2 separate regions of the Homo sapiens genome follow, and region 1 is linked to region 2. The links come from fine-mapping of genetic effects on gene expression. A gene starts in region 2. The other region holds a variant in brackets. All regions are shown on one strand. Distances are from middle to middle.

Region 1 (5,371 bases), 35 kb after region 2:
CTGTGGGACCCTTAATACATGCATAATTGAAATCTTTAAAAGAAAAAGGGGGTAGCAGAAAAAAATCAAGTGCTGAGACAAGTGGAAGATGGGCCCCGGTGAGCAGCTGATCAGTGTCAGCTCCCATGATGACGTTCCCCCAGCCCCCACCACCCGGGCTGCTGGAGGGAAATGCGGTGACTTTGCTACATCCCTTCAGACGGTCCCTCACTGGTGTCCCTCAGCCCATTCGCGTGAGCTCACTCTCCCATTAATTTCAGAAATCCTGGCCTCTCTCCAAGCCTCCTGCTCAAACTCTAAATTCTGTCACCCTCAGAAGATTCAGCAGCATCCCGTATTCTCTCTGAGTGTTCACTATGTACCGGGTGCCGTGTGGGCACTGGAGTTGCAGAGGAGAGTGAGGCGGACAGGGCCTCTGCCTGTGGGGACACCGCCTGGTGGGAAGTCCAGCCAGCCCCCTACAGAGAGAGGAGATGCTACTGGTGTTCCTGAGTGGTCCTCGGGAGGGACCTCCTATCCCTCCTGTCCCCTGCCCTGCCCTGCCCAGCACCGGCCCTCCCTCGGTTGGCCAGCCTCAGGAATGAGGAGTCCCTCATTCCAGCCCAGCTAACCAATCCCCTTCCTAAGCTCCAAGCCCCTGCTCCTCCTGCCTCCATGGAACCCGGCTCCACCACCAGCACCCACACACCTGACACTCCTCCATTCCTGGCTCTTGCCCTTCTGCCTAGCACTGCTCAGATCTCTCTCACCTTAAAATCTTTTCCCACCAGCCTGGGCAACATAGCAAGACCCCATTTCTCTAAAAAATTTTTTTTAATTTGCCAGGCACAGTGGTGCACACCTGTAAGTCCTAACTACTTGGGAGGCTGAGGTGGGAGGATGGCTTGAGCCCAGGAGTTCGAGGTTGCAGTGAGCTATGATCCTGCCACTACACTCCTGTCTCTAAAAAAAAAATGTCCAAGATACTTAGGTCCTTCAGTCAAGATTTATTACAGAAGGATCCAGGGAAGGGTCTTGGGAGATGAGAGGAGCAGGGATCTTCCAGGATCTCTCTGTGCTCACGTCCCCCACCCATCCCAACTCACCCCACCTCTACACACACACACACACACACATACAATCACATACACACACTAACACACACACTCACGCAACACACTCACACACACAACATACATAACACACTCACAACATACACACACAACACACACACTCGCACAACATACACACACGCACAACATACACAACACTCACACAACACACAAACATACATACACTCACACAATACACACACACAACACACACACAACATACACAACGTACACACACACAACATACACACACTCATACACAACATACATACACACAACATACACACAACATACACACACTCACATACACAACATACACTCGCACAACATACACACATGCACAAGATACACACACAACACACAACATACACTCACACACAAGATACACACAACATATACTCACACAACATACACACACAACACACTCTCACACACAACATACCCTCTCACATACACGACATACACACACACAACATATGCACGCTCTCGCGCACATATACACACACACAACATTCACTCACACACACACACAGAGTCCCAGCTGAATCTGCATTCCTCATATGCACATACGTGCACACGCACATACGAGGCACATGTGTTCTTGGGTTGGGAGGAGAAGGGCAGGCAGTTATCTTCCAGATCTCCCCACACCTCTGGCACATGCCTTTCCTGGGGTCCTGGGGTAGACAGGAAGGTGAGGTGAGGGAACAAGCGGGGGTGTCGGGCCCTCCTCAGTCCCTGTTCACAGAGTGGGTGCGGCAGAGACCTCAAAGGGACAGAGCAATCATGAGCTGAGACAGAGGGGGAGCAAAGCCGCAGAAACTGCACACTTGCCTTTCAAAAATGGATTTCCTCTCCTGGGATTCAGCCTGCGAGTGCCTGGCCCCTCACCTTGATGGAAAGGATGGTCATTTTCCTCCGAGCTCAGCTGCTGGATATCTTGAAAGTCCTTGGCCATGATGGGGCCCGGGCTGGAGCTGGAGCTGGAGCTGGGCTGGGCTGGGCTGAGGTTGCTCTGAGGGCTGGGGCTGGGGCAGAGGTGCAGATTCACGTGGAGGTTGATGGTGGGATGGAACGCAGGGTCGGAGGGGTTCGGGGTGGTGGCCTGGGTAGGATCTGAGGTTGGCAGGGCGTTTGGGATGAGGTTTGAAATCCCGCTGGGTCCTTTCCCTTCTCAGGAGACCGCTTGGGCCTTGACCTGGCCAGGAGACCCCTCCCCACGCTCATGGACCCGACCACCCACAGCTTCCCATGGGGTCCTCCCCATCCCTGAACCAAGGCCTCCTTGTTCCCAAGCATCCTCGTCCCAGTTGCCTCCCCAGCCTCAGTTACCTGTGAAAGGTGTGGAGAGCGGACACCTGGCTCCCGCAGGCAACCCTGGCCTTGGCCAAGGAGGGGTTAAA[G/T]CCAGGAGAACTGGGGCAGGTGGAGCTCACAGGGGAGAGGAGAGTGGAGGAGGGGCTGGTCCGGGCAAGGCCTGCACTGGAGGGTCTGAGTGTCCAAGCTCTAACCTGGCACCTCCTGGCCTGGGACTTTGGACAGTAAACAGAAGAGGAAACAGAGCTGTAACTCATTTGTGGGGTGGGGGCAGGGGACGGGGCTATCTCTGTTCTTATTCCCAGAGAGGGGGGTCCCCTGGGCTGCGCTCAACTCCACACGCCACTCACCCCACTCATTGCACCATTTGGAAGGGGTGCCAGGCCAGGAGGGGCTGGGGTGCAGTTTGCCGTTTCCCTCTCTCCCTCCCCCTCTCACTTCCTGCCTCCGAATTTACCAGAACTGTGGGTGTCTCCAAATATCCCTGACCAGGATCACAGCGACCAGTTCTCTACTCTTGCCCAATCCGGCATCTGAACCACAGACCCCAGCTTCCTGTGGGCTCGGCCACCAGACTCTCAGCTCTGGCCCAACTCGCTTCACTCTCCTGGAGAGTAAAGCCTCTCAAATCCAGAAGCTTCAGCAGGAGGAGGAAGGGGCTTTGCAGAAAAACAGCTCTCCTCGCAGGAGGAATCCAACCTCAGAGAGCCCCGTCCGGCCCAGACCCTGCCCCAGCCCAGGCAACACAAACACTGTCCTCAGGCCCAGCCACTGCCCTAAATTCTCCAAGGTGTTTCTTCATTTATCACAGCACAACACCCCCACGAGGCAGGACTTCTGTTACTCCCATTTCACAGGGTTCGGAAGCGGAGCCTCGGAGAGATGAGGCAACTTGCTCTAGGTGGTGGCCCAGGTGAGTAGAGAAACTGGCAAAGCAAAATGGAGTAAAGAGGGGAAAATAACATCATAACAAAAGGTCTGGCCGGGCACGGTGGCTCACGCCTGTAATCCCAGCATTTTGGGAAGCCGACGTGGGTGGATCACCTGAGGTCAGGAGTTCGAGACCAGCCTGGCCAACATGGTGAAACTCTGTCTCTACTAAAATACAAAAATTAGCCGGGCGTGGTGGCAGGGGCCTGTAATCCCAGCTACTCAGGACGCTGAGGCAGGAGAATCGATTGAACCTGGGAGGCGGAGGTTGCATTAGCCAAGATTGCGCCATTGCACTCCAGCCTGGGCAACAAGAGAGAAACTCCATCTCAAAGAAAAAAAAAAGAAAGAAAGAAAAAGAAAAGAAAAGGTCTTCATGGTCCTACGAGGAAGACTGGCTTCCATGAAGCAAGGAACGTGGCTGACTGTCTACACTTGCGCTAACAATAGCTCGGGAAAGAAAACACAGTTTTTGTGCATGATTTTCTGACCCTCACCAAACTTGGGCGGATGGCTACGGGCAGGGTTTCTTATAAAGCTGCTCGTTTCCCCGGGTGCCGAAAAGGAATTCAAACAGAGGCCTTTTCTGTTCTTGTAACTTGCTGACCCACATGGGAAGTAGCCACCCCCCCAGTACCCTGACATTCCCACCCAGCCACCAGGCAGCAGCAGCCGCTGGGCTCTCTGACTGCAGCCCACAGCGAGAGACGAATTTCATGCTGTGATCCAGAACATACACACAAGCACCCGCACACACAGGTGCATTTGTATGTGTTACTTTCTCCTGGATCCCCAGTGCCTGCCACACAGTAGCTGCTCAACAAGTATCTACTGAGTGAGTGAGTGAATAGAATAATGCGTTTGGAAATACACGGTTGACACTAAAGTTTGATGGGACAATGCTCACCTTACTACGTGCCTTCTGTTGAGTTTCCCAGTCCATTAATGGGTCACAACTCAAAGTCTGAACAACACTGCTGTGAAGCCCCCATCTTAAGGGGCATGTGGATTTAGTCCTGAGATACAGGTAAGAGCTTCACAGATGGATTGTCTACTGCATGTCAAGCTTTGCCAACTGCCAACCAGGGATGGGGCCATCCTCATTGGCCACCCCTTTGACTGAACCAATTCCACGTTTCAGGGCTTGTCACTTACACCCCCACTCACGGCACTACAGGGAGAGAAGGGACAGAGAAAGCCAGACTCATCTGCGTCCTTCTCTTTCTCCCTATTTGAAAATCATTTTAACTTAGAAGTTAACATGTACTTGGACTATTTCTGAAGTTTCCATATTGTTGGAGGTTTTCTGTTTTGGGTTATGGAATCCTATTTTCTTTGATTGATTTTTTTTTTTTTTTTTTTTGAGACAGAGTTTCACTCTTGTCACCCAGGCTGGAATGCAATGGCGCGATCTCAGCTCACTGCAACCTCCACCTCCCGGGTTCAAGTGATTCTCCTGCCTCAGCCTCCTGAGTAGCTGGGATTACAGGCATGCACCACCACGCCCGGCTAATTATTTGTATTTTCACCATGTTGGCCAGGCTGGTCTTGAACTCCTGACCTCAGGTGATCCGCCCATCTCAAACTCCCAAAGTGCTGGGATTATAGGCGTGAGCCATCGCGCCCGGCCTTATTTGGTTGATTTTGATTTGGGGTTTATTTGTACCTCAGACACAAAGGTTAGATTGGTCATATTCCTTACTTCATGACACTAGGTCTTCCTCAGAGGTCTGAGCTAAACCTTTGTCCTGTTTCGTTCTTCCCTAGCTCCCATCCTGTTTCCCCTCACTAATTCTATACTCTCTACTCTCTATAGGCAGCCAGAAGTCTGAGTGCCCTGACAGTCCCCACAGATGGTGCCCATCAATTTCTCCCCTCACCACATGTGCAAGTCACACCACTCAGCCAGGGGTAGAGTCTGTTTCCCCTCCCCTTGAGTCTGGGCTGGCCCTGTGACTTGCCTTGACCAACAGAAAGCACTAGAAATGACACTCTGCCAGTTCTGGGCCTGGACCTCAAGAAACCTGGTAGCTTCA
Region 2 (5,371 bases):
CAGCAGCCATCCTGACTATGGGTCCGTCAACTCTCTCCATCACTACCCCCACCACCGTCCCCATCAATCACTCCATCAGTGCCCCCCCACCATTCCCATCAATCACTCCATCAGTGCCCCCATCACCATTCCCATCAATCACTCCATCAGTGCTCCGACCACTGTTCTCATCAATCACTCCATCAGTGCCCCCCACTATTCCCATCAGTCACCCCATCAGTGCTCCCATCACCATTCCCATCGATCACTGCATCAGTGCCCCCCACCATTCCCAACAATCACTCCATCAGTGACCCCCACCACCATTCCCATCAATCACCCCATCAGTGACCCCCCACCGTTCCTATCAATCACTCCATCAGTGCCCCCCCACCATTCCCATCAATGACTCCATCAGTGACCCCCAACCATTCCCATCAATCACTCCATCAATGCCCCCCACCATTCCCATAAATCACTCCGTCTGTGCCCCCACCACCGTCCCCATCAATCACTCCATCAGTGCCCCCCTACCGTTACCATCAATCACTCCATCAGTGCCCTCTCCTCCATTCCCATCAATCACTCCATCAGTGCCCCATCAGTGCTTCAGTGGCTCTGTTGTGACCCCCATGACTGTTGGTAGCACTGCCCTCACCATGCCCCATTGTTATCTCCACAGCTGCCCCCAACACTGTGCCCTGCATTGCTCCTACTGTGGACCTCACCATCGCCCCACCACTGCCCTACTGTAGCACCCCATTATTTATCTTCTACCCCATTATTTCTCTCTTCCCTGTCCACCCCTGTGACCCTCACTTTGGAATCCAACCACACAGATGATGACCAGCAGCAGGAGGCCGAGGCCCAGGGACAGCAGGAGATGGCAGGGCCCAGAGCAGAGACGCTGCAGGAGGGACTGGAGAGGAAGTGGCCCTGCAAGAGGAGAGAGTGTCAGGATGAGGAGGGTCCAGACACCGGAGACGGGAGAAGGAGAGGGCCCAGGGAGCTGTCTAGTGAGGAGGGCTGGGCACAGGGGACTCCAGGGGAGGGTTGGACAAGGAGGATTTTGGGGTGGGGGATGCCCAGGCCTTTGACTTCAGGGACCAGCACAAGTCCTCAGTCACACAGGCCCCTCACACCCCTGGGGACCCACGTGATAGCGATATGAGGGGTCCCATGGTCAGAGCTGGGGGCAGGGGCAGGAGGACACAGGGAGAGCTGGGGGCAGCCAGCCCTTCATGGGCTTATGCTCACCTACCTGCTGGACAATCAGGTTCACAAATGAGTTTCCTTCCAAACCCAACTACTTATCTTTCCCTCCACCAATGCGCAGCTCTCATCCCCACCCCACAGAGCATCAGAAGCTGGGTCCACTGTGATCCTCCCTGTCCCAGTCTTTCTAGAGACCTTGCATCCTCTTCACACTAGGCCCGTCAGAGGCTGGGGCCTGACCTCCTCAGAGTTAGGACCCACCAGTGCGCGTGGTGGAGGTACAGAAATGATAGGAGAAATCCTTCTAAACATATAAAGAGGGCATTTTAGGAGAGTTTCCCCTTTCCTCTTACCATTTTTAAACCCCTGGACTTTCACCTTATTCTCCAAGTACTGGAAGTTTTCATACGTCCTTGTCATGCTTGGGCCAACACGGCTCTGAGGTTGTCACAGCTGAAATGGAGGCAGGGCCGGCGCCCAGTCTGGGGTGGAGCTGGGGAATAGGAGGTTGGGACTAAGTTGGAGCCAAGGGCAGGGCTGACGTTGAGTTGGGAGATGAGGCTCAGGTTGAGAATGAGCCCAGGGTTAAGACGGAAATGAGCCTGGGTTTGCAGTCGAGTTAGAATTGGGGTCGAGTTGAGTTTGGGAGTGAAACTGGAGGGTAACGTTGGAGCTAAACGCATTGCTAGGACTACCCAGTGGGCCAGTTAATCAGGCAGGACTGGAGGTTGTATCTCATGCTAGGATTGGGGTCAGTATGCACGTTGGAGCCATGGATGGAATTGGGGTTAACTTTGGTGGTGAATTTGGAAACAGAATAGAGTCGAGGTTCAATTTTGGCTTTGGGCTGGTGTTAAAATTCAAGTTGATTCTGGGGTTGGGGTTGAAGTAGGAGCTGGGTGGGGGGCGACAGGTGCGGTGGCTCACGCCTATAAATCCCAGCACTTTGGGAGACCGAAGCAGACAGATCACTTTAGGTCAGGAGTTTGAGACCGGCCTGGCCAACATGGTGAAACCCCATCTCTACTAAAAATACAAAAATTAGCTGGGTGTGGTGGTGTGCGCCTGTAATCCCAGCTACTTGGGAGGCTGAGGCAGGAGAATCACTTGAACCCAGGAGGCAGAGGTGGCAGTGAGCCGAGGTTGTGCCGTTGCACTCCAGCCTGGACGACACAGTGAGACTCAGTCTCAAAAAAAAAGAAAATGTAGAAGCTGGGGTTAGTATTGGGATTAGGGCATGGCTGGGCTGAGATGAAGATAAGGCTGGAAATGGGCCACCAATGAGGCTGAGTCTGAGTCTTAGTTTATTTTTATTTTTATTTATTTATTTTTTGAGATGGAATTTCGTTCTTGTCGCCCAGGCTGTTGTGCAACGAGGCCGTCTCGGCTCACTGCAACCTCTGCCTCCTGGGTTCACAAGATTCTCCTGCCTCAGCTCCCGGAGTCTTAGTTTATGACAGGGGATTGTGGCTGCCGTAACCCAATCTAGAATCCAGTGAAGGGAACAGAGTCTCAAATCTCCACGTAGTAATTAAACCCCACACTGCCGCCTTATATTTATTTTCATTTAGTCCCACCCAAGACCCAAAGTCCCCCTCTCCCTGCTTCCTCTGACATCCCCTGTCCCCTGGGTCTCACCGGCACCGGCAGCACCATTACCTGTGGGAGGTCTGGAGGGTGTGATTCCCACGTTGGTTGTGCTGCAAGGACCAGAGGTGGGACGTCACTCAGAGTTGGGAGCGCTGTGTCCTGGAGAGCTGGGGTAGAGGTGACTGGAGTCCTGCTGGTCTTGGGTCTGAAATCCCAGGAGCCCTATCATCTGGGACATCCCATCTCCTCAACTTTAGACAGTAAATGAGAATGAACAGGGATTAGAACACACAGAGACCATGTGTGGGTGGGGAGAGTTGGGTTTGAGGCCAGCTCTGTTCTCCTCCTCCAGGCCATGCCTACTTCCTTTCCTCTTCTCGGAGCTTCCTCATTTTTACCATCTGGGAGCAGGGCTGGATCAGAGGTACAATCTGCTGTTGCTCCTCTACCCTACACTTCCTTTCACTTCCTGCCTCTACATTTCCCAGAATTGTTGGGTCTCCATCATCGCACCTCTGATCCTAGAGAAGCCCAGTCTGTTCTCTTGCTCAATCCTGGCCTGAGTCCCTGGCATCAGCATCCTCTGGGTCCCAGTCATTCGGCTGCTCAGCTGTGGCCTCGCTCGCCTCACTCCACTCGGAAGGAGGGAAGGGGGTGCCAGAGAATAGAACTTCTTGGCCCTAATAGGACGGGAGAAGCCAAGGAAAAGAGCAAATTTTATTGAGTAATCTGTGATAGGATTATGCCAGACATTTACCTTCCACAACCATTCCCCCCAAGCACCTGGGGAGGCATTTTGGATGACGGACTAAAGGCTCAGAGCCCAAGATCACTCACAGCTTGTAAGGAGACAGTTTGGCACCCTGCTCTGGCTCTCAGCACAGGCGCTGTCTTCATGAACAGGATTCCATTTCATCCCATGATCCCTGCTCAACCCCTAAGGGAGCTGCCCTGAATCCACGCGCACATCCCTTTCAGTAGGAAGGAAACTGAGTATCTTACAAGGTGGAGAAGGAGAAGAAATACATTTTAGGTTATATTTTGTATGTACATGGGGTTGTGTTCTGCTATGTGCTTTTTTTTTTTTTTTTTGGAGTTAACAAGCTATCAGGAACATTTCTCCACATCAGTTTATAAAATGTACTTGATCTACCTGCACCTCATTTCATCATAGGCACCGTAATTTATTTATTTAGCATTTCTCTATTGACAGAAATAAATCAGAAATTTAAGTTGTTTCTTTTTCTTTTCTTTTTTATTTTATTTATTTATTTATTTTTTTGAGACAGAGTCTCACTCTGTTGCCCAGGCTGGAGTGCAGTGACACAATCTCGGCTACTGCATCTCCTGGGTTTAAGCGATTCTCCTGCCTCAGCCTCCCGAGTAGCCGAGATTACAGGTCCCGCCACCACACCCAGCTAATTCTTGTATTTTTAGTAGAGAGGGGTTTCACCATATTGGCCAGGCTGGTCTTGACCTCCTGACCTCACATGATCTGCCCGCCTCAGCCTCCCAAAGTGCAGGGATTACAGGCGCGAGCCACCGCACCCGGCCAGGTCGTTGCCAGTTTTGTTTTTATTTGGTATTCGGTATTTTGATTAGTATATGTCGCAGGTTCGGTTTTTGGAAGCCAAGGTTGAGGCTGAATTTGGGGTACAAGCTATTTATTAGGGATTAGCACTTCGAAAAGGAAAGTGGATGAAATGGTGCTGGGCAGAGGGAGAAGCCCAGCACTTTGGAGAGCTTCAACCAAACCAACAGGGAGCTCTGGGTTCAAACAATGCCACCCCCGGGAGCTGTCCAGCATTGGACTGCCACAGGGTCCTGTAGAGCACCAGCTCCTTCGGTCACTGGCAGTCAGCCCTGACATGGGTGTGACCTCAGGAAGCAGCTGTCTGCAGGTTACACTCCCCACAGTGGGTCACCACATCCTTCCTAGAAGGGGGACCTGGGTAGCTCTCTGTGTGTCTACCACAGTCTTGCAGTGTATTCACATATTAATTTGGAGATAATCAACATTTTGACATTGTTGAATCTTCCATGAAAAGAACATGATATTTCTCCATTCACTAACTTTTTTTTTTCAGTCTGGTTCAGTGGGTTTGAAGCTTCTTTTTTTTTTTTTAGTTCTGGGATACATGTGCAGAATGTGCAGGTTTGTTACGTAGGTATACGTGTGCCATGGTGGTTTGCTGCACCTATCAACCCATCACCTAGGTTTTAAGGCCCGCATACATTAGGTATTTGTCCTAATGCTCTCCCTCCCCTTGCCGCCCACCCCCTGACAGACCCTGGTGTGTGATGTTCCCCTCCCTGTATCCATGTGTTCTCATTGTTCAGCTCCCGGTTATGAGTGAGAACATGCGGTGTTTGGTGTTCTGTTCCTGTGTTACTTTGCTGAGAATGATGGTTTCCAGCTTCATCTATGTCCCTGCAAAGGACATGAACTCATTCTTTTTTATGGCTGCATAGTATTCCATGGTGTATATGTGCCACAATTTCCTTATCCAGTCTATCATTGATGGGCATTTGGGTTGGTTCCAAGTCTTTCCTATTGTAAATAGTTCTGCAATAAACATACGTCCAA

What was found. PIP is the estimated chance that this variant, and not a neighbour inherited with it, causes the effect.
Region 1: its variant is fine-mapped to the expression of CLEC10A in whole blood (TOPMed, PIP 0.93).

The regions. Positions count from the first base shown.
Region 1 is chr17:7,112,192-7,117,562 of GRCh38, forward strand. It overlaps ASGR2 (asialoglycoprotein receptor 2), which reads right to left and starts at 2,631. Exons shown (of 9, transcript NM_001201352.2): 1 at 2,424-2,631; 2 at 1,926-2,119. The coding sequence starts at 2,049. RefSeq lists enhancers at 477-977, 2,783-3,569. The variant G/T (reference allele first, on the strand shown) is at 2,495.
Region 2 is chr17:7,077,199-7,082,569 of GRCh38, forward strand. It overlaps CLEC10A (C-type lectin domain containing 10A), which reads right to left and starts at 3,053. Exons shown (of 9, transcript NM_001330070.2): 1 at 2,854-3,053; 2 at 1,548-1,687; 3 at 799-915. The coding sequence starts at 1,614.